Linked DNA regions of Homo sapiens. The protein of the gene in region 2 purifies or fractionates together with the protein of the main gene of each other region. This does not show direct contact. Each region holds a gene or a part of one and is shown on either strand. Other genes may lie near its edges.

Region 1 (3,500 bases), on a different chromosome or scaffold from region 2:
AAGGAACAATTGGAAAATATGAAAAAGAAAGAAACTGTTCAGTTAAAATCTAAAATTGATTCTTAAGAGAACAAGTCAAAACAATGGAATATGTAGTAACTGGGGACCCCCTCACTAAAAGCTCTGCCCTGCCAGGCCTACTTGTCAAGAAATGTAAGGAGTTTGACTCATTTTAAAACATTGATTTTCCTTGGGAAGACACTTTGATTTTACAACTCACTGTACTCTGTTGTGAAAACAATAATAAAGGGAGCAATAAAGATCTTAACCTATAATGGAGCTCATACCCCAAATCAGCAGGGATTCAACCACTCTTGCCATAGTCTTATATGTGGAATACTTAAAGTAGAAAGAGTTACTGTATGGCGAGGTGGACTTTCCAAGTCTGATAAGATGTTCTGTCTCCTGTGGTTGGAAGTCCCTTCCGTGTCCATTTCAATCTTACTCTTTCCTAGGCTTCTGGCCCACACTGCCACCTCCGTTTCTGAGGTGAGATCACCACATAGTGAATAAAATTCCAAGCAGTTATCAGAGGCAAGCATTTCTAAATATACCTTACTCTAAAGAGAGTCATTGATCACTTTTGGCTAGTACTTAGGACTTGTAAAAATATATATTGTGTGGGAAGATCGGTTACATATGTTTTTCTTTCAGTATGCTTACATAAGAAAACATTAATCATGGCATTTTTTTATGGCTTTAAATTTGCTCTTTTTTTGCCCTTTAGTGAGCGCCACATTTTTAACATATAGATGCTTAATAAGCTTAAACAAAGAATGATTAAAAGGGATTTAGTTCCAAATGTTGATAAAATTTCATAAATGATGACATATATAATTGAAGGTTTAAATAAGAAAACATTGAAAACATTTAACATATGCATATTCAAGAAAAAAATGGGTTAGGAAAATAAAAATAAAAACTGTCTCTAACCTAAATCAAATTAAGTGATTCATTTAATTAATTTAATAATTACTTAATAATTTAATGTTTATTAACTATGACCCATTGTTACAATGCTTTTTTATTATTAAGTGGAAAAACTATCTTTGATTTTCATTTTCTGTTCAATAGCTTTACACTATTGGCAGAAAGTCTTTTCCAACTGAGAAGGCAATTGGAGAAACTAGAGGAGCAATCTACCAAAATGACATATGAAGGTGATCCCATTCCAATGCAAAGAACTCACATGCTAGAAAGAGTCACCTTCTTGATCTACAACCTTTTCAAGAAGTAAGTGAAGTGCTATCAATGGCATCCTCCATTCTGTGAAGTAAGAACACCCTTCCTAAGGTTTTGGTGTTTAGGTGGAAGAGTGGCAGGGAAGTATTCAACAACGAGCCTCAGGGAGAAGTGAATAGAACCCCAGAAAGTTTTAGAAACCACATTTCTACTCTTCACTATTTATTCATCAACACTTCTCTCACCAACTGGCTCAGTTTTCCACAAGCTAAGTCATGTCATTCACCTACAGCTCAGTTTTCACATCTTAGAAAAAATTTCAAGGGTTTTTTCTTATGTGCATATCCATGAAATGAAGGATGGAGAACATTTTCATGTTTATAAGCTAAAGAAAAAATACTAATATGTACCAGAAATCCTAATATTTAGTCCAAAAAAAGTCATGAAATTTATTTTTGGCCAGGTATGGTGGCTCACACCTGTAATCTCAGCACCTTGGGAGGCTGAGGCAAGGGGTTGCTTGAGCTCAGGAGTTGTAGAACAGCCTGGACAGCATAAAAAGACCCCCATCTCTACAGAAAAATAAAAAATGTATCCAGGCATGGTGGCACATCCCTATAGTCCTAGATACTCAGGAGGCCAAGGCAGGAGGATCACTTGAGCTCAGGAGGTTGAGACTGCAGTGAGCTATGATCGTGCCACTGCACTTCAGCCTGGGCAACAGAGGGAGACCCTTCTCAAAAGAAAAAAAAATTACTAAATGGACTGGGGCTTTTATTCATGACTCAATTATAACAATTAAGAATCATTTACTGCTGTGAAATGATTTATAAAAAGTCATTGTAAAGATTTGAGTTTAATTGGGGGTTTGAATATCTTCTAAGTGTAGAAAATTTGGACTTTGAGTGGATAGCATCCTGTTCCTCTGTGGTTTTCAGTCTCAATATTTTCAGTGTTTTCAAATGATGCGCTTTATTTCCTTTTCATCTAGCTCATTTGTGGTTGAGCGACAGCCATGTATGCCAACCCACCCTCAGAGGCCGTTGGTACTTAAAACCCTAATTCAGTTCACTGTAAAACTAAGGTAGGCAAAAACATTTTCTACTATTTCGTGTGTTTGTGGAGCTATAGTCTCTGGATGATCAAGGCCAATTTCTCTCATTGTGGCTTGCATTCAGCTGTTCTTTATTGAACCATCTGCTGTGTGCCCAGCTCTGAGCTTGGGGAAATACCCACAGAAATGTGAAGATGAGAGCCCTGCTTGTCAAGAGCATGACAGTGCAGATGAGGACATAAGGGATATTAGCCTGAAAGTATGGAATCATAATATCAGGCACAATGAAATTAATTGCTGAAAAGGTTGACTTGAGAAAAGACTGGAGAGATTGGGAGAGGGGAGGAGGATTGTAGGAGAGTGAGAATACAGAAATAATGGCTTCCTGGCTCTGTCTGGTAATCGTGGGGAGCAGGGAAGAGACAGAATTGAGAGGACAGATTGGGGACAGATTCTGGAAGGCTTTGAATATCCTATCCAGGAAACACAGTGGCACATTCATCTCCTGAGATTACCCAGTAACTGGCTTATTAGACTTTCCACAAAAACTCCCAATACCACAGTTTTCCATATGTCCCTATTGTGTACCTGATTTAAAGACATAACTTTTGTGTTATTGTTGCTTTCTCTGTGAATTTGATCCTATTAGCATTAGCGTCAAAACTTACAGTTTTCCCTAATGATGCTGAGAACAATGAGTTTGAGTTCTTACTTTCAAAGGTTCTCATCATGCCTGAAACTCCAAGCACTAAAGTTTTAAAGGCCTAATCACTAGGTCACCTCTGGAAAGCTGAAACCACAGACTAACAGGTCAAGAGGTGGTGATGCCATGGTACAGAGCAGTTTAGGGTTCTATGATAAGGTTGCTGATCACATATCACTATTGGAACTCCATTTTTAAAGAGAAGGCATTTGTCTTCGGTTTGCATTTTTAAGACACCATTAACTTCTTAATCAGTTTCTTTGTATGAATTTTGCACCAAGATTTAAGAACTGAAAACAAAAGGCAGAGGCCAGGTTCCTTTTTAAATTGCACTGTTGGCCAGGCATGGTGGCTCACGCCTATAATCCCAGCACTTTGGGAGCCTGAGGAAGGCAGATCACCTGAGGTCAGGAGTTCAAGACCAGCCTGGACAACATGGCAATACCCCATCTCTACTAAAAATAGAAAAATTAGCTGAGCATGTTGGCTCATGCCTGTAATCCCAGCTACTTAAGAGGCTGAGGCAGGAGAATCGCTTGAACCCAGTAGGTAGAGGTTGCA
Region 2 (3,500 bases):
GTACTGATTCTGAATTTTTTTTTTTTTTTTTGAGACGGACTCTCGCTCTGTTGCCCAGGCTAGAGTGCAATGGAGCGATCTTGGCTCACTGCAAGCCCAGCCTCCCGGGTTCATGCGATTCTCCTGCCTCAGCCTACCGAGTAGCTGGGACTTACAGGCGCCCGCCACCACACCCGGCTAATTTTTTTGTATTTTTATTTTTATTTTTATTTTTTTTGAGACAGAGTCTCTCTCTGTCCCCCAGGCTGGAGTGCAGTGGCGTAATCTCGGCTCACTGCAAGCTCTGCCTCCCGGGTTGACGCCATTCTCCTGCCTCAGCCTCCCAAGTAGCTGGGACTACAGGCGCCTGCCACCACGTCCGGCTAATTTTTTGTATTTTTAGTAGAGACGGGGTTTCACTGTGTTAGCCAGGGTGGTCTCGATCTCCTGACCTCGTGATCTGCCCACCTTGGCCTCCCAAAGTGCTGGGATTACAGGCGTGAGCCACCACGCCCGGCCATTTTTTTGTATTTTTAGTAGAGACGGGGTTTCGCTGTGTTAGCCAGGGTGGTCTCAATCTCCTGACCTTGTGATTCACCCACCTTGGCCTCCCAAAGTGCTGGGATTACAGGCGTGAGCCACCGCGCCCGGCCTTTTGTGGTTTCTTTGCCTCAGTCCGTTGCACACATGCTGCTGTCTGAGGCTGTGGGTCACCCAGGTTACTAACCATTCCACTGCTTGATTTGAGTTGTTAGTATTTTATCTGTTGCCAATGTAATTGTTGTTTTTGTCTCCAAGTGCTAATGCTTCATAAACTTCTTTTTTTTTTTTTGAGGCAGGTCTTCTTCTGTTGCCCAGACTGAAGTGCAGTGGTGCAATCACAGCTCACTGCAACCTTGGCCTCCCAGGCTCAAGCAATCCTTCCATCTCACCCTCCCAAGTAGCTGGGACTACAGGCGTGTGCCACATGCCTGATTAATGGTTGTATTTTTTTATAGAGATGGGGTCTTGCCATGTTGCCCAGCACTCAAACCCTTGGGCTCAGCACTGGGATTATAGGCATGAGCCACTGTGCCCAGCCATGCTTCATAAATTTTTTTTTTTTTTTCGAGACGGAGTCTCGCTCTGTCGCCAGGCCAGGCTGGAGTGCAGTGGCGCGATCTCAGCTCACTGCAACCTCTGCCTCCTGGGTTCAAGTGATTCTCTTGCCTCAGCCTCCCAAGTAGCTGGGATTACAGTCACATGCCACCACACCCAGCTAATTTTTTTTTTTTTTTTGAGACGGAGTTTCACTCTTGTTGCCCAGTCTGGAGTGCAATGGCAAAATCTCAGCTCACTGCAACCTCTGCTTCCCAGGTTCAAGTGATTCTCCTGCCTCAGCCTCCAGAGTAGCTGGGATTATAGGCATGCACCACCACGCCCGGCTAATTTTGTTTTTTTAATAGAGACAGGGTTTCTCCATGTTGGTCAGGCTGGTCTTGAACTCCTGACCTCAGGTGATCTGCTTACCTTGGCCTCCCAAAGTGCTGGGATTACAGGCATGAGCCACTGCGCCAGGCCCCACCCAGCTAATTTTTTTTATTTTTAGTAGAGATGGGGTTTCACCATGTTGGCCAGGATGGTCTTGATCTCTTGACCTCGTGATCTGCCTGCCTCGGCCTCCCAAAGTGCTGGGATTACAGGTGTGTGCCACCGCACCTGGCTGCTTTGTAAGTTTTTTATACATTGGAAAAAAAAATCCCTGGGATGTAGCTTATAGATAGATTGACTTGGGAATGCCAATGGAATATATGGATTAACCATCTGACCATGTATGCATGTGTATTTACTCCTTATAAGTAGTTCTCTTTATTTTTCTCTGTGTGATTACATGTTGCTTTTTACACTAGGATTGAGCATTTTTTCTGTGTGGCCTTTCATCTTCTGTAAAATAGTTTTCAGTCATCTTGTCACATTAAAGTCATTTGTATATTTATTGCTTCATTTCTTCCCTTTTTTCTTTTTTTAACTTACTCTGTAGGCTAATTCTTTTTCATTTATAGGGATTGCTAATATTTTGTTCCAGGGAGTGATTTATCTTTTCACTCCATTCTACATTTTGATGGACTCTTAAATTTTTTTGTTTGTTGGCTTTTTTGGCCGCCTTCTGCATGCACCATCATCAAGGGTGGGGAAGGGTACTCTTCTTGATTTTAATTGAGTTGACTTTGGCTCTTCCTTTCAGGCCTACTTAATTTTCTTGTAAGAGAACATTCTAGAGAGTGTATATTTAGGGCAACTTGAATCTGTGCTCCCAGGTTAAATAAAGAACACTCTCCCTACTGTCAAGTTGGAAAAAAAATTGTAACTTATGAAAGTTTGCTACTTTTTAAAATTTTAAAATTTTTTATTTTCTCTCTCTCTCTTTTTTTTTTTTTTTTTGGAGACAGAGTCTCGCTCTGCCACCCAGGCTGGAGTGCAGTGGCATGATGTTGGCTCATTGCAGCCTTCGCCTCCTGGCGTCAGGTGTTTCCAGTGCTTCAGCCTTCCGAGTAGCTGGGATCGCAGGTGTGAGCCACCATGCCCGGCTAATTTTTGTAGTTTTAGTAGAGACAGGGTTCCTGACCTCAAGTGATCTACTTGCCTTGGCCTCCCAACATGCTGGGATTACAGACGTGAGCCACTGTGCCTGGCTGCTTTTGTTTTTAAGAGGTTTGTGTTTTTCTGATTTGATCTTGTTTATAGCTGGAGACTGGCTAAAACTTTATCCCTGTCCTGGTGTGGCTCTGGGGGATTTCTTGGAGGATATTTAAAATGTGCCTTTCAAGGGATATTTCTTCATTCTGTTGGAGGGCCTGATGCCTAGATGTTATACCCATGACCAGGTGTCCCTCTCACAGCACACTTGTTTATACTTGCTCTGTACAAGCAGGCACCTTGTAGATCTTGTCTGACCATTGTCAGTTTAATCCTAGACTAGAGTAGCCACTAATCCGGTATCTATTAGTGGCTAATAAACACTACCACTCTGTTCCTACCAAGAGAGCCCCGATTATGATAGTAGTTAGGTTCAAATAGTAGTCAGGTGTGTCAGTTAGGCAATTAGGTGAGACTCGGAGGAGACAATTCAACAAACACAGGAAATAACAGAAGGAGTTTATTACTTATAAATCCCAGAGGCCGGCTGTGGTGGCTCACGCCTGTAATCCCAGTACTGTGGGAGGCTGAGGCAGGCGGATCACGAGGTCAGGAGATCGAGACCATCCTGGCCAACATGGCGAAACCCTGTCTCTACTAAAAATACAAAAATGAGCTGGGTGTGATGGTGCGTGCCTGTAATCCCTGCTACTCGGGAGGCTGAGGCCAGAGAATCACTTTAACCAGGGAGTCGGAGGTTGCAGTGAGCCGAGATTGCGTCACTGCACTCCAGCCTGGCGACAGAGCCAGACTCCATCTCAAAAAAAAACAAAAAAATTCCCGGAGAGAGGAGAGTAGCATGTCTTGTAGGCCAGCAGGTAGGTGGAACTATTTGTGACACATAC
Region 3 (3,500 bases), on a different chromosome or scaffold from region 2:
CTGTTTTCACTGTTTCCTGAGCTATGGCTTGTTCATTCTTCTATATGAACTTGAATATCAACTTGTCTAGCTCCTTAAAAACAGTATTGATATTTTTACTGAGATTGTGACAATGTATAAATTAACTATATCTTTGTGTTGTTGTCTTATCCAAGAACAAGGGATGACTTCTTGTTCCAATGTACTTTTGGGTCTTGCAGGAGGGTTTTAAATTTTTCTTCATCTACATTTTGCATGTGACTTAAGTTTATTCCTAAGTGTTTGATCATCTTTGTCGCTATTGTAAATGGGGTTTTCCCTATCATTATATCCTTTTTTTCCCCCCAACTCTCAGGGTATTAATTATTCAGTGCTATTTATTTTTTATTTCAGTAGGTTTTTGGAGAACAGGTGGTGGTTGGATACGTGAATAAGTCCTTTAGTGGTGTCATTATATCGTTTCACTGCATATTGTCAGTGCATTTGAAGGCAGTGGATTTCTGCAAACTTTTGTTTTTTTTTTGATACGGGAGTTTCGCTCTTGTTGCTCAGGCTGGAGTGCAATGAAGCGATCTTGCCTCACCGCAACCTCTTCCTCCCAGGTTCAAGCAATTTTGCCTCAGCCTCCCAGGTAGCTGGGATTACAGGCGTGCACCACCATGCCCGGCTAATTTTTTGTATTTTCAGTAGAGATGGGGTTTCTCCATGTTGGTCAGGCTGGTCTAGAACTCGCAACCTCAGGTGATCCACCCATCTCAGCCTCCCAAAGTGCTGGGATTACAGGTGTGAGCCACTGCACTCAGCCCTGCAAACTAATTTTATATTCTGCTACCTTACAGAATTCTTACATTGTTCAGGTTAGTTTTGTTATTGATTCTTTAGGGCTTTACAGGTGTACTAACATATAATCTTTAAGTATCGATGGATACACTGCTTCCTGCTGATTCTCATGACTCTGACTTTGTTGAATTGCACCGTTCTTTTGTTTAGTTGCTAACACCTCTAGCTCATTGTTCAACATAGTGGAGATAGTGAGCCTCCTTACCTTGGTCCTGATCTTAGTGGAAATGCCACGTTACATGAGAGGCTGACTGTAAAAGGGAAGGCATATGTTATTTTAGCTTATTAACAAAGTATTCCTCAGTTCTTCTATTCCTGAGTGGTGTTTTACAGGAGTAACTATTGAATTGTGTTCCCATATCTTTGGAGACGATGGTGAATTTTCATATGGTAGATTGTCTTCATGAACCTCCTAATAATGAATCAACCTTACATTCTTGGCATAAATCCCACATGTTGTACTATTTTAATGTGTTTTTGAATTCTGTTTATTAATATTTAGTATTTTTCTATGGATATTCAGTCATAAGTGATACTGGTCTATAGTTTTCTTTCTTCTTTTTTTTTGTTTTTGAAATGGAGTCTTGCTCTGTTGCCCAGGCTGGACTGGAGTGGCGAGATCTCAGCTCACTGCAACCTCCGCAACCTCCGCCTCCTGAGTTCAAGCAATTCTTCTGCCTCAGCCTCCCGAGTAGCTGGGATCACAGGCGTGCACCACTACACCCAGCTAATTTTTGTATTTTTAGTAGAGACGGGGTTTCACCATGTTGGCCAGGCTGGTCTCGAACTCCTGATCTCCAGTGATCCGCCTGCCTCAGCCTCCCAAAGTGCTGGGATTACAGGCGTGAGCCACCGCTCCCGGCGTGGTCTATACTTTTCTATTTTTGTTCTGTCTATCAGGTATGGGTATCAGTGTTTACTTCATAAAAATAATTTGGAAGTTTTCCTTCCTTTTTTGTGTTCTAGGACAATACACGTAGCATTAGTGCTACCTGGTCTTAGAAGTTTTGATAGAATCCTCCCATGAAACCATCTGGTCTCTTTCTGTGAGGTGGTTCCTCGATAACAGTTTTTCTATTTCTTCTATAGAGATTGGCCTCCTCATACTTTCTTTTCTTATGGGGTCAGTTTTGGTAAATTATATTTTCCTGAGAGATCACTTCATCTAGGATTTCAGACTTATCTGCAGAGGTCTACAAGATAATATTTTCTCCCTTTTTTTTTTTTTTTTTTTGAGACAGAGTTTCACTCTTGTTCCCCAGGCTGGAGTGCAGTGGCTCGATCTTGACTCACCGCAACCTCTGCCTCCCGGGTTCAAGTGATTCTCCTGCCTCAGCGTCCCAAGTAGATGGGATTACAGGCATGCGCTACCATGCCTGGATAATTTTATGTTTTTAGTAGAGACAGGGTTTCTCCATGTTGGCCGGGCTGGTCTCAAACTCCCGACCTCAGGTGGTCTGCCCACCTGGGCCTCCCAAAGTACTGGGATTATAGGTGTGAGCCACCGCACCCGGCCAATTTTTTTCTCCTTTTAAAATATTCTGTTTCAGGGCCAGGCGCGGTGGCTTATGCCTATAATCTCAGCACTTTGGAAGGCCGAGTTGGGCGGATCACCTGAGGTCGGGAGTTCGAGACCAGCCTGATCAGTATGGAGAAACCCCATCTCTACTAAAAATATAAAATTAGCTGGGCGTAGTGGTGCATGCCTGTAATCCCAGCTACTCGGGAGGCTGAGGTGGGAGAATCCCTTGAACCCGGGAGGCAGAGGTTGAGGTGAGCCGAGATCGTGCCATTGCAGTCCAGCCTAGGCAACAAGAGCGAAACTCTGTCTCAAAAAAAAAAAAAAAAAAAAAATTCTGTTTCAGGCTGGGTGCAGTGGCTCATGCCTGTAATCTCAGCACTTTGGGAGGCTGAGGCGTGTGGATCACTTGAGGTCAGGAGTTCAAGACCAGCCTGGCCAACATGGTGAAACCCCGTCTCCACTAAAAATACAAAAATAAGCCAATGTGGTGGTGTGCGCCAGCTACTCTGGAGGCTGAGGCAGGAGAATCACTTGAACCCGGGAGGGGGAGATTGCAGTAAGCCAAAATCACGCCACTGCACTCCAGCTTGGCGACAGAGCGAGACTCCATCTCAAAGAAAAGTAAATAGATAAAATAAAACAAAATAAAATACTCTGTTTCAGTGGTTATTTTCTCCTGTTATTATCTTTTTTTGGCATGGAAAATATTGATTTATTTTTTGTGACAGGGTCTTGCTTTGTCACCCAGGCTGGAGTCCAGTGACCCAATCTCGACTCAATGCAACCTCCGCCTCCCAGGCTCAAAACGATCCTTCTACCTCAGCTCTACGAGTAGCTAGGACTGTAGGTGCACCCTACCACGCCCAGCTTACGTTTGTATTTTTTGTAGAGAGGTGGTTTTGCCATGTTGACCAGGCTGGTCTCAAGAGTCCTGAGCTCAAGCAATCCACCCGCCTCAGCCTCCCAAAGTGCTGGGACTACAGGCATGAGCTACTGCACCTGACCTGGAAAATATTTATCTCATTTTTAATTGACACAAAATAACTACATATTTATGGGGTACAGTGTGTGATGTTTTGATACATGTATACACTGTGTAATGATCAAATTAAGGTGATTAGCTTATCCATCACCTCAAACATTTATCATTTCGAGGTGA
Region 4 (3,500 bases), on a different chromosome or scaffold from region 2:
CCATATCTGCATTTCCACCTCCCATCCCAGTGCCTGGCACCCAGGGGCAGCTCGGATCAATCAGCTGAATTAGTGAGTGAGTGAGTGACTTGGTACAGAAGCAAGCCATACAGTGTACAAGAGTCCATGAAGCTCCTCTCAACCCCTAAAGCTAATGGATTTGGACATAGAACAAGGGGAAGGAGGGAGTTCCCCATTCCTCTGTCTGCCCTCTGTACCCCTCGCCCTCCACTCCAGACTGTTTGCAGCTTACCCCCCCGCCGATGGTGCCCTCTTAGGATTCTATGCCCTTGTGTATGCTGAACCCCCTACTGGAACCTCTTTCCTTTCCTTTCCCACTGGGCTGACTCTGGCTCAGCCTACAGAGATGAACGCAGGCTCTTACCTTCCCTTCAAGTCAGGTGGCCTCTCCTGGGGCAGCCCTGGCACCCCCACAGATTCAGAACTGGTGACACTGTGTTCTAATGCTCAGCTGTCCAGTCTGCTAGAGCAGGAGCAATCCCAACCAGCACCAAGCCACCCACCCCCCGGATGAGTGACAGCTTCTCCAGACATATTCCATGAAATGAATTAACGCATCTCACACCTTGCAAGATGGCAGGGGTACAAATAAGGTCCTTTATGTAATAATATCAGAACTAAGATAACTTCTTTTAAGCAAAATATAGAAGCCTTTAAAATGTATATGAGGAAACATTCATATATATACATATATATATATATATGTATATATATACTTTAAGTTCTGGGATACATGTGCAGAACGTGCAGGTTTGTTACATAGGTATACATGTGCCATGGTGGTTGGCTGCACCCATCAACCCATCATCTACATTAGGTGTTTCTCCTAATGCTATCCCTCCTCCAGCCCCCCACCCCCCAAAACAGGCCCCAGCATGTGATGTTCCCCTCCCTGTGTCCATGTGTTCTCATTGTTCAACTCCCACTTATGAGTGAGACATGTGGGGTTTGGTTTTCGGTTCTTGTGTCAGTTTGCTGAGAATGATGAACTTTTATAAATGTGATAAAGCTGTGAAAATTGCTCATATTGCCTGATGCCAACTAAGCCCTCAATCAATGTGAGTTATTGATTTATTTACCACTTCCTGTATGCCAGGACTATGTCAAACTCATCACAGGCTTCATCTGATTTCATCATGGCTATAAAATAAGCAGATGGAGTGACCGAAGGGTTATCATTGTTCCCATGTTATAGATGCTGAAGCTGGGGCTTGGGGACATCAAGTGACCTGTCCAAGGTCACACAGATGGATGGAGGAGGAGCTGGGGTGGGAACTCAGGTCCTCCGGTCACACCATCACCTCCTCACCTGACCACTCCCTGTTCTCTCCCAGGACCACGCCCCCTGGGTCCCCTACCTGAGTATCGTGGGCATTCTGGCCATCATCGCCTCTTTCTGCAGTGGGCCAGGTAAGGCACCCCACCCTCCCCACTGCCCCGCCCAGGGACTCATGGCATCACCAAGCTGGGGGGCTCTCCTCATACAGATGGGGAACCCAGAGCCCAGAAGAAGCAAAGCCTGACTGGGGATGTGTGTCTGCTGCCTTTCTTTTGGCCCAATTTAAATGTAGCCGACTGTCTGCAGTCTATCCCACAGAAGGTGAAAGTGGACTCACCTGAAGATGAGTGGGAGATAATTTCCCACCACACAGCAAGAGCAGTTCATACGCGGGAGGGCTCTGATCCAGAGGTGACACTGGTTTGTGTTGAATCAAAGACAACCAAGTCACAGTCTGTGCCTAAGCAGTTACCGTCTATGGTGAAAGATGTGGCAATAATCATGTCTAAGACATATTGTTCATTGATTTTGTGTTATACTTGGCTAAGAACTTGACCTGTGTGAGCTCATTTAAGGCTCAGGACAGTGCCAAAGAAGACAGAGATGGAAGGTGACTTGCATGAGCGAGTAGGTGGAGTGGCCTGACTGCCAGGCCCAGGCCCCAACCACCAGCTTACATGGTAGCTGTGTGAGTGTGCAGCTGGAGTATCCCAGCCTCAGTTTACCTGGGACTCACTTCTAGCCCTGCTGTTTCCTAGCCATGGGTCAGTAGGAGAGACTTCTTCTCTTTGTTAGCCTCAGTTTCCCCATCTGTACAACGACAAGGATGCAATGCAACTGAGGACCCTACCATTCCCTGGCCCTGTGTCCACGTCCAGCAGGGACCTCCAGCAGAGTCCAAGGTCAGACTGAGAAGGGGGGCTCAGGGCAGGGTCTGACACAGCCATGTGCTCTCTCATGGGATGATATTCATGGCTGTTCTTTGGTTGTGTTTCTTGGTGGATGCAAACAGTAAGTTTCTATCAGAACAAAGGGAACTGAACTTCTGTTTCTCCCTTTGTGTTGCTGATTCTCGTAAGCCATTACATTCCAGGTTCTATTGCATTCATGGTGGATGGAAAGTGTCCATTCAGGACATCGGGATATTATAATAAGATGGCAAGGTGGCAAGGTGGGCCATGGAATGGTTGGGGAGGGCATCAGGTGCACATACATGCACACAGCACACACACACACACACACACACACACACACACACACACACACACACACAGTGCTATGAGGGTGGTCAGAACGGCTGCAAGAAAAAGAAAGCAAGCACCTCCCAGGCAGGGCAGCGAATTAGAGGATGAACACACAGCACATGTTGTAGTTTACAGTGGACGCGAGGAGTAAATGTGTTTAGTCTTCCAGGGCATCTGCATCACAACCTCACATCCACATCTTCACATCAGTGCTCTGGAGGTGTCCAGCCTACGGCCCTATGCTAGCCTGGGGACATGCGTGAGCAAACCAGACAGGAGCAGTCTCTGCTCCCAGAGGGGCTTGCCTCTGGTGTGGAAGTCCCCTCTGAGATGTCAGCTGCTCAGTGAGGCCTCTCCTGGCCACTTATTCTAAAACCAGCACACACACATTTACTATATACACTCACACACACATGCACACCTACCCTCTATCTCATCACCCATCATAGCATTGTTCACAGGCATGTTGGTTTCCTGCGTACTCATTTGTTTAATGCAGACATGGGAAGATTTTTCCTGCAAAGGGCCAGGTGTAAATACTTTTATTTCACAGACCATGCATTCTCTATCACAACTACTCACCTCTGCCATGGTAGTGTGGACACAGCCATAGATAACGAGTAAATGAATGGACTGCATGGTTGTGTCCCAGTAAAACTTTATTTACAAAAGCAGGCAGTGGGCTGCATGCGGCCTGTGTGCTGCAGTCTGTCTTTAATGTGTGTCTCCTCCAGGCTAGAAAATAAGCTCCATGAAAGGACCTGGTGTGTGGTTCACAATCTTATCCTGATAACCTAGAACTGTGCTGAAGACATAGTAAGGCTCCACAAGTACTTGTTAGAGAGGGAATAAAATAACTGAGCAAAGGCTGGCAGGGAAGATGTGTGCTTTTGTGAGCAGCGTAACACGGGAGCCTGCCCTGGCAGCAGGGTTTTTCAAAACAAACCTTGGAGGAG
Region 5 (3,500 bases), on a different chromosome or scaffold from region 2:
TCGCCCAGGCTGGAGTGCAGTGGCGCAATCTCGGCTCACTGCAAGCTCCGCCTCCCGGGTTCACGCCATTCTGCCTCAGCCTCCAGAGTAGCTGGGACTACAGGCGCCCGCCACCACGCCTGGCTAATTTTTTGTATTTTTAGTAGAGACAAGATTTCACCGTGTTAGCCAGGATGGTCTCGATCTCCTGACCTTGTGATCCAGCCACCTTGGCCTCCCAAAGTGCTGGGATTACAGGCGTGAGCCACCGCGCCCGGCCCCAATCCCATATGTTTTTTACCCATTTAAGGTATTTACTTTTATTTATTCTTGTACATGGCAATTCTGAGATTGCTATCCTTCGACAGGCCTGCCTGCAAGGTTAGCCCTTGGCTAGCATTTGGGAACTTAGATTTGGGGAGGGTCCTCACCATTCCCAGAACTGATAAAGAGTAGTTTGCCCCGCCTGTAATCCCAGCACTTTGGGAGGCCGAGGCAGGCGGATCACAAGGTCAGGATATCGAGACCATCCTGGCTAACGCGGTGAAACCCCGTCTCTACTAAAAATACAAAAAATTAGCCGGGAGTAGTGGCGGGCGCCTGTAGTACCAGCTACCCGGGAGGCTGAGGCAGGAGAATGGCGTGAACTGGAGAGGCGGAGCTTGCAGTGAGCCGAGATTGCGCCAGGGCACTCCAGCCTGGGCGACAGAGCGAGACTCCCCCAGAAAAGAGTAGTTTGCTGTGCCTGAACCATTTGTACAGGCAATATGTTTTACGCTGCACATGTGCTTTCCTTCTGGGAGTCTGGAATTTTGAAACATACTAGGCAGAGGGTGCCTCTACGGCCAGCCCTCAATAAAAACCCTGGGCACTGAGCCTGAGTTTCCCTGGTAGGGCACCATTTCACGAGCTGTGAATGAAGTGCACGGTTTGTGACTTCACTGGGCGAGAGCTCGTGAGCTTGCGCCTGGGTTCCTGTAAACTTCGTCCCATCCACTATTTCCCTTTGCTGATGTTGCTTTGTATCTTTTCAATGCAATAAACCTTAGTTATATGTAAATAATATGCTGAATCCCATGAACCTTTCTAGCAAATCACTGAACCCGGGGGTAGTCTTGGGGATCTTGACACAGTCCTCAATTAACCTCTTTCAAGGAAAAAAAAAAAAAGGAAGTAAACAAACATCTATTAAGCACCTAGTGTGAGCCAGTCACTAAGCTGGTGTATATGTTTCTCATTTAATCTTCAGAATAAATCTTCAAAGTAGATATTGCTATCCCATTACTATGACTCATTTATAAATGAGAAAACTGAAGGTCAGAAAAATTCAGTACCCTGCCCAAGGTCACAAAGCCAGGTAGAGAGTCAAGATTTAAACCCAGATAGTTGTTCTATCTGTTGTCACTGTCAAATTATAACGATTGCTTCCTTGGCCTTGTAGTTTTGGTGATAAAAGTCCATGTTCTTCCTCTCTGGATCTTTATGAGATCAAAGTGTATGCCCTCTGCCTTTCTTTTCATACAGGTTCTCATCCTGTGTCTTTCAAATGAGCAGTGATAAATTGATGATTCCTTTCCTCAAACTTAGAAAATAAAGCATCTTGAATACTATAGTATTATACTTTGTGCAAGATGCCAACAGATGCATTGAAATCTAGTTTTCAATTTTTTTTTTTTTGCTGAGGCTAATTAGAGATTTAATTTCTAATGTTATCTCTGTTTCCTTTTCAGCAAAACTCACCTAAGCACTGATCTTATAGGAAGTAATGCTGCCCCATAAGATTGAGGAGGTTTATGTGTTATGTAAATACATCTAGGCTTAATTAAAAAAAAGAGAAGATGCTAACTTATTAAAAACTCCAGCAGACTCATCCAGCAAGGCCTAGCCTTACAGATGATTATATAAGGGAATTGTGAAGGCTCAATCCTAAAACTTACTATACAAACCCACATTTTTCTGCAGTCCCACCTACTTGGGAGGCTGAGGTGGGAGATCACTCCAGCCCAGGAGGAGTCCCACATTACAGTGAGCTATGATCCCACAACTGCATCCCAGTCTGTGCAATGTGAGCAAGGCTCCAACTCAAAACAAAGCAAAAAAAAAAACTACTTTTTTTCTATATAACACAAAGATATGTTTCTGAACTTTATGGTAATGAGATATTGTGTGTATGATACTTTAAAAAGTGCTGTTAACTAATAAGTACGTAAAAAAAATAGATACACTACCAAGGTTTCAGGAAATGCAGTTTATATCTTTAAATTAAGGCTAAATTTCTAAAAGCTAAGACTATAATAAAATAAAGTTTTATTAATATTTATATTTTATAAAATTATATAATTGAGTTTAACCTTAATGAAAATTTGAGAATTTTCCAGTTCTAAAAACAGAAAAGACCACCATTTGACACTATGAGTCACTTCTATGAGATATCTTGATATGTAGTTCCTAAAGACTATTTTAGGTATATAATATTCAGGTATTCACTGTTTCAAAAAAGGCCAGAGAAAAGCTTAAAGAAGAACAAAGTTGTTACATATAGCATCCAAAAAATAGTAGTAGGCTTAAAGACAGTTTACTAATTGCCTATGATGTGTTTGATAGATACTAAGGGGCTACCAAAAAAATGAAAAAGACAGTATCAAATATAGACTACTGCCTTCTATAATCAATGATCAATTTTTTTTTTTTTTTGAGATGGAGTCTCACTCTGTTGCCCAGTCTGGAGTGCAGTGGCATGATCTCGGCTCACTGCAAGCTCTGCCTCCTGGGTTCACGCCATTCTCCTGCCTCAGCCTCCTGAGCAGCTGGGACTATAGGCACCTGCCACCACTCCCAGCTAATTTTTTTTGTATTTTTAGTAGAGACGGGGTTTCACCATGTTAGCCAGGATGGTCCCGATCTCCTGACCTTGGGATCTGCCCGCCTTGGCTTCCCAAAGTGCTGGGATTACAGGCGTGAGCCACCGTGCCCGGCCAATCAATGATCAATGTTAAATCCTCTGATTTAAATAGCTATTCAATCTGAGCTTATTCAAAATTATGGCTAGCATACCTCTTCAGGAAAATCAATCTTGTTCTAATCATAATTATAAAAATATAATTATAAACATAGCTACCACATACATACACCATGCATCAGTTACATAAATTTAATAGTCCTCACAACAACCCTCAGAGCAAGTATATTAATCGTCCACATTTTTCAGATGAGGCAACTTAAAGGTCAAAGAGGTTAGGTGACTTCTATAAGGTTACAAGTGAGTAAGTGGTGGAGACACCCTTTGACAGCCATGTTGCCTCCTCTCCAGAGCATGGAATACCAGGAAGAAAACAGGTGTTGCTTTATTTTATCATAGGGGTCTTTTCAATAGCTCTGGCCTCTTTCCTGTGACTCAAACACTGTTTACCACAATGCATCAGAGTATCTTCTGACTCTGCGCTGGTTCTGGGGGCATGTCACAGTGGAAAAGAAAGTACAATGTTCAGAAGCAAGAGTAACTGTGAAGTGAAGATATGAAA
Region 6 (3,500 bases), on a different chromosome or scaffold from region 2:
TACAGGAAATTTTTAAATCTGAGAAGCAGTTTGTCAAATTGTAACTCTGATTCCGAGCAGGAAAATATCTCCATGGTGGAAGGGTTAAAATTGTATTCGGAGATGGAACAGTTGAAACAAAAGCTGAAACTCATTGAGAATCCTTTGTTGAGGTATGTGTGTCTTTGTAATTCTTAGTTAGTCAGCATCTTTTCTTACTTGCTGTCTTACTGATAGGCCTGTTTCGTTTCTTTAAGGTATGTGTTTGGTTATCAGAAGAATTCTAACATCCAAGCAAAGGGTGTCCGTTCCAGCGGTCAGAAGATCACTCATGTGGTCTCCTCCACCATGATGGCTGGTCTCCTGCGGTCCCTGCTTACGGACAGGCTTTGCCAGGAGCCTGGTGAGGAAGAAAGAGAAATTCAGGTAAACGGAGAGTTTCTCACTCCAGGTGGCTTTTTTTCCTTCTGATTCACCACAGGTTTTCACAAATCCCACAAAGTATTTACAGGAGCTTTCCCAAGACGGTTTTCTGTGCATGGGAAGTAGTGAGAGCCCTGCCTTTCATCAGCAGTAGTCACTTACCAGGCATGTGTTAGGTCAGTGCGCTATCAAAGGAGATGCTTCAATATGCAGTTTTTGGCTTCCATTTTCAAAGTAAGACATGAAGTCACCTAGAGTAATACTCAAATTACTTTTTTGGGAGTGTATATTTACAAATGTGTTCTTATTGTTTTCTAGTTCCATAGTGATCCATTGTCTGCTATAAATGCCTGCTTCGAAGGTGACACTGTTATTGTTTGTCCTGGCCATTATGTGGTACATGGCACTTTCTCCATTGCTGACTCCATTGAGTTGGAAGGTGAGTATGGAAGACACACAACCAAACTCTCACACGTGATATGTTTAAGTAAACAATAAATCACCAATCTTGTTGAAACTCCAAGAATGTGATTTGAACCCATTTGATTTCTAGTGAGCTGCCTTGAAACATTAAGGACATGGAAAGCTGAAAAGAGGTTGACCCAGTGTTTCAGCAATTTGAGTTGTGGTTCTTTGTAGCAGTGTGTATGTTGGGGAGATGTTCACAGGCTCATATAGAAAAAAGACCATTAGGAAGAAGCATACTTTCCAGATTGTAGGTGGTTTATGGAAAGGAAATCTAATTTCTAGAATTAAAAAAAAATTCCTAGCAATATTTTTAAAAATTTTAGTATTTTAAAAATTTGTTGCTTGCTCTTATCTCATAGATGTTGCAGATATGTTAGTGCATGGCTTTTTGTTTTTTGTTTCACACTTAGCTTATTTTCGTGAGAGGTATAATGAAGGGCATTTAACTTGAAATTGGTACCAATTATCTTAATTCTCTAAATGCTTGCCGAATGTCACAAATGCTACACTTTGTGTCTTGACCAAAGTATACTTTAGAAAAGATTAATGTTGAAAGATTCTATTAAAAATAACTTTTTGGGCTGGGTGTGGTGGCTTACGCCTGTAATCCCAGCACTTTGGGAGGCCGAGGTGGGCAGATCACTTGAGGCCAGGAGTTTGAGACCAGTCTGGCTAACATGGTGAAACCCCGTCGGTACTAAAAATACAAAAATTAGCCGGGCATGTTGTTGCACGCCTGTAATCCCAGCTACTTGGGAGGCTGAGGCAGAACAATCGCTTGAACCTGGGAGGTGGAGGTTGCAATGAGCCAAGATCATACTACTATGCTTCAGCCTGGGTGACAGAGCAAGACTCTGTCTAAAAAAAATAACTTTTTCACAGTTATAATCTTATTGTTCATTTAGAGTGATTTCTAAATTTAGGTTACTTTACAATTGTTCATCTTGGTCCTGTATATTTTCATAACATGTCAAATTTAGTTACACCTGTTCAACTATTTATCAAAATAGCTTCAAGTTAGCAGTGAAGCTTGTAATGCAAAAAATCATATATCATTTTGGGACTTGTGCAGCTGTTCAGAAACTGCTTAAGCTATGCTCTTTATCTTGTCAGTACTTCTAAATGGAACTGAAGCTGGAAGTTTAGTTTTCTCCTGTTCCTAGTACATCATCTCACCCCCTTTTTTATTTTATGTGTGTAATTTTTGTTCTTTTCTACTCTCCAATTTTTGATGTATAATAGATGTGTGTATATAAATAACACATCTGCAAGATAAATCACTGTGATAAAAACACTTTATTTTTTGGCATAGTGGAAATAACACTGATATTATAGTTTGTATGGTAGATAAGAGTTCTTCCTAGATTGGTGAGGAAATTTTAATGTAATTGCCAGAGTGTCATAAATGGACATATAGAATGCTGATAGTTAAGTATAAAAATGGCTGTATATTGACTAACAGTATGGGTCTGAGAATTGGGGAATCACAAGGTATCTCTAGTGTGCATATATGGAGTGTTCATGAGTAAGATTCAAGCTCATCTGATAGTGATCTATAGCTAACCAATATAACAAGAGATATATATTGAGTACCTACTATGTGCAGGGTGTCAATAGTACTTACAATAGGGTTTTTCTTTCTTGTTTTGAAAATCCATTCATTTAGGTAATGGTTTTATGTTTTAAGTGGAAAGAAATACATAATTATATAAAAATTTGTGTAAAAATCTTTTCTCAATATGCAATTCTTTTTGTACTTTTAATTTTTCTGATGATAAAAAGCAATGGTTATTGTAGAAAATATGCCAAGTACAGTCAGATACATACAACAATCAGAAACAAAATCACTCATAATTCAGGCATCCAGAGTCCACCCCTGGTAGCATTCCAGTGTGTGGAGTCCCCTTGCATTCTCTAGGGCCCCCAAAGCCTTGTTTGTCCTCTTCCAGTGTAGATACATTGAGCGGCTTTGCTTGTTAAAAACAGTTACTGCTTTCATTTACTCAAAGATTCGTCTTTAGTCAATGAGAGTTATTTCTTACAGCTTTGTCTATGTGGTTCTGTTTTATAATGGAAGTCAAGCGAATTCTTTAGTTTTCTGATACTCTAGTTTTTTGTAAGCCCACTCAGGTGTTTGGCTTGCATTAATGGTTTGAGTAAGATTTATACAGATCTGATGGTTTTTTTGTTTTTGTTTTTTTGAGGTGGAGTCTTGCTCTGTCGCCCAGGCTGGAGTGCAGTGGTGTGATCTCAGTTCACTGCAGCCTCTGTCTCCTGGGTTCAAGCGATTCTCCTGGCTCAGCCTCCTGAGTTGCTGGGATTACTGGTGCCTGCCACCATGCCTGGCTAATTTTTGTAGTTTTAGTAGAGACAGGGTTTCTCCATGTTGGCCAGGCTGGTCTCGAACTCCTGACCTCAAGTGATCCACCTGCCCTGGCCTCCCAAAGTGCTAGGATTATAGGCGTGAGCCACTGCACCTCACTGAGATCTGATGCTTTTTTTTTGAGACAGAGTCACTGTCACCCAGGCTGGAGTGCAGTGGCACGATCTCCTCTCACTGCAATCTCCGCCTCCCAGGTTCAAGCAATTCTCCCACCTCGGCCTCCTGAGAAGCTGGGATTACAGGCACA

What was found.
Region 1: the proteins of ZNF136 (region 2) and STAT4 purify together in Homo sapiens (affinity purification with mass spectrometry; one large-scale study listed by BioGRID and IntAct). This does not show direct contact.
Region 3: the proteins of ZNF136 (region 2) and ANKS3 purify together in Homo sapiens (affinity purification with mass spectrometry; one large-scale study listed by BioGRID and IntAct). This does not show direct contact.
Region 4: the proteins of ZNF136 (region 2) and SLC2A9 purify together in Homo sapiens (affinity purification with mass spectrometry; one large-scale study listed by BioGRID and IntAct). This does not show direct contact.
Region 5: the proteins of ZNF136 (region 2) and DHX32 purify together in Homo sapiens (affinity purification with mass spectrometry; one large-scale study listed by BioGRID and IntAct). This does not show direct contact.
Region 6: the proteins of ZNF136 (region 2) and SHCBP1 purify together in Homo sapiens (affinity purification with mass spectrometry; one large-scale study listed by BioGRID and IntAct). This does not show direct contact.

What each region holds. Positions count from the first base shown.
Region 1 is NC_000002.12:191,060,495-191,063,994, reverse strand, and holds part of STAT4 (signal transducer and activator of transcription 4), read left to right. Parts: intron 1-1,074; coding exon 1,075-1,233; intron 1,234-2,173; coding exon 2,174-2,266; intron 2,267-3,500. UniProt on the Homo sapiens protein: Transcriptional regulator mainly expressed in hematopoietic cells that plays a critical role in cellular growth, differentiation and immune response. Plays a key role in the differentiation of T-helper 1 cells and the production of interferon-gamma.
Region 2 is NC_000019.10:12,169,596-12,173,095, forward strand, and holds part of ZNF136 (zinc finger protein 136), read left to right. Parts: intron 1-3,500. UniProt on the Homo sapiens protein: May be involved in transcriptional regulation as a weak repressor when alone, or a potent one when fused with a heterologous protein containing a KRAB B-domain.
Region 3 is NC_000016.10:4,710,272-4,713,771, reverse strand, and holds part of ANKS3 (ankyrin repeat and SAM domain-containing protein 3), read left to right. Parts: intron 1-3,500. UniProt on the Homo sapiens protein: May be involved in vasopressin signaling in the kidney.
Region 4 is NC_000004.12:9,885,498-9,888,997, reverse strand, and holds part of SLC2A9 (solute carrier family 2, facilitated glucose transporter member 9), read left to right. Parts: intron 1-1,355; coding exon 1,356-1,431; intron 1,432-2,095; coding exon of another isoform or gene 2,096-2,238; exon of another isoform or gene 2,239-3,500. UniProt on the Homo sapiens protein: High-capacity urate transporter, which may play a role in the urate reabsorption by proximal tubules. May have a residual high-affinity, low-capacity glucose and fructose transporter activity. Transports urate at rates 45- to 60-fold faster than glucose.
Region 5 is NC_000010.11:125,860,793-125,864,292, forward strand, and holds part of DHX32 (putative pre-mRNA-splicing factor ATP-dependent RNA helicase DHX32), read right to left. Parts: intron 1-3,500.
Region 6 is NC_000016.10:46,600,880-46,604,379, reverse strand, and holds part of SHCBP1 (SHC SH2 domain-binding protein 1), read left to right. Parts: coding exon 1-152; intron 153-236; coding exon 237-405; intron 406-720; coding exon 721-841; intron 842-3,500. UniProt on the Homo sapiens protein: May play a role in signaling pathways governing cellular proliferation, cell growth and differentiation. May be a component of a novel signaling pathway downstream of Shc. Acts as a positive regulator of FGF signaling in neural progenitor cells.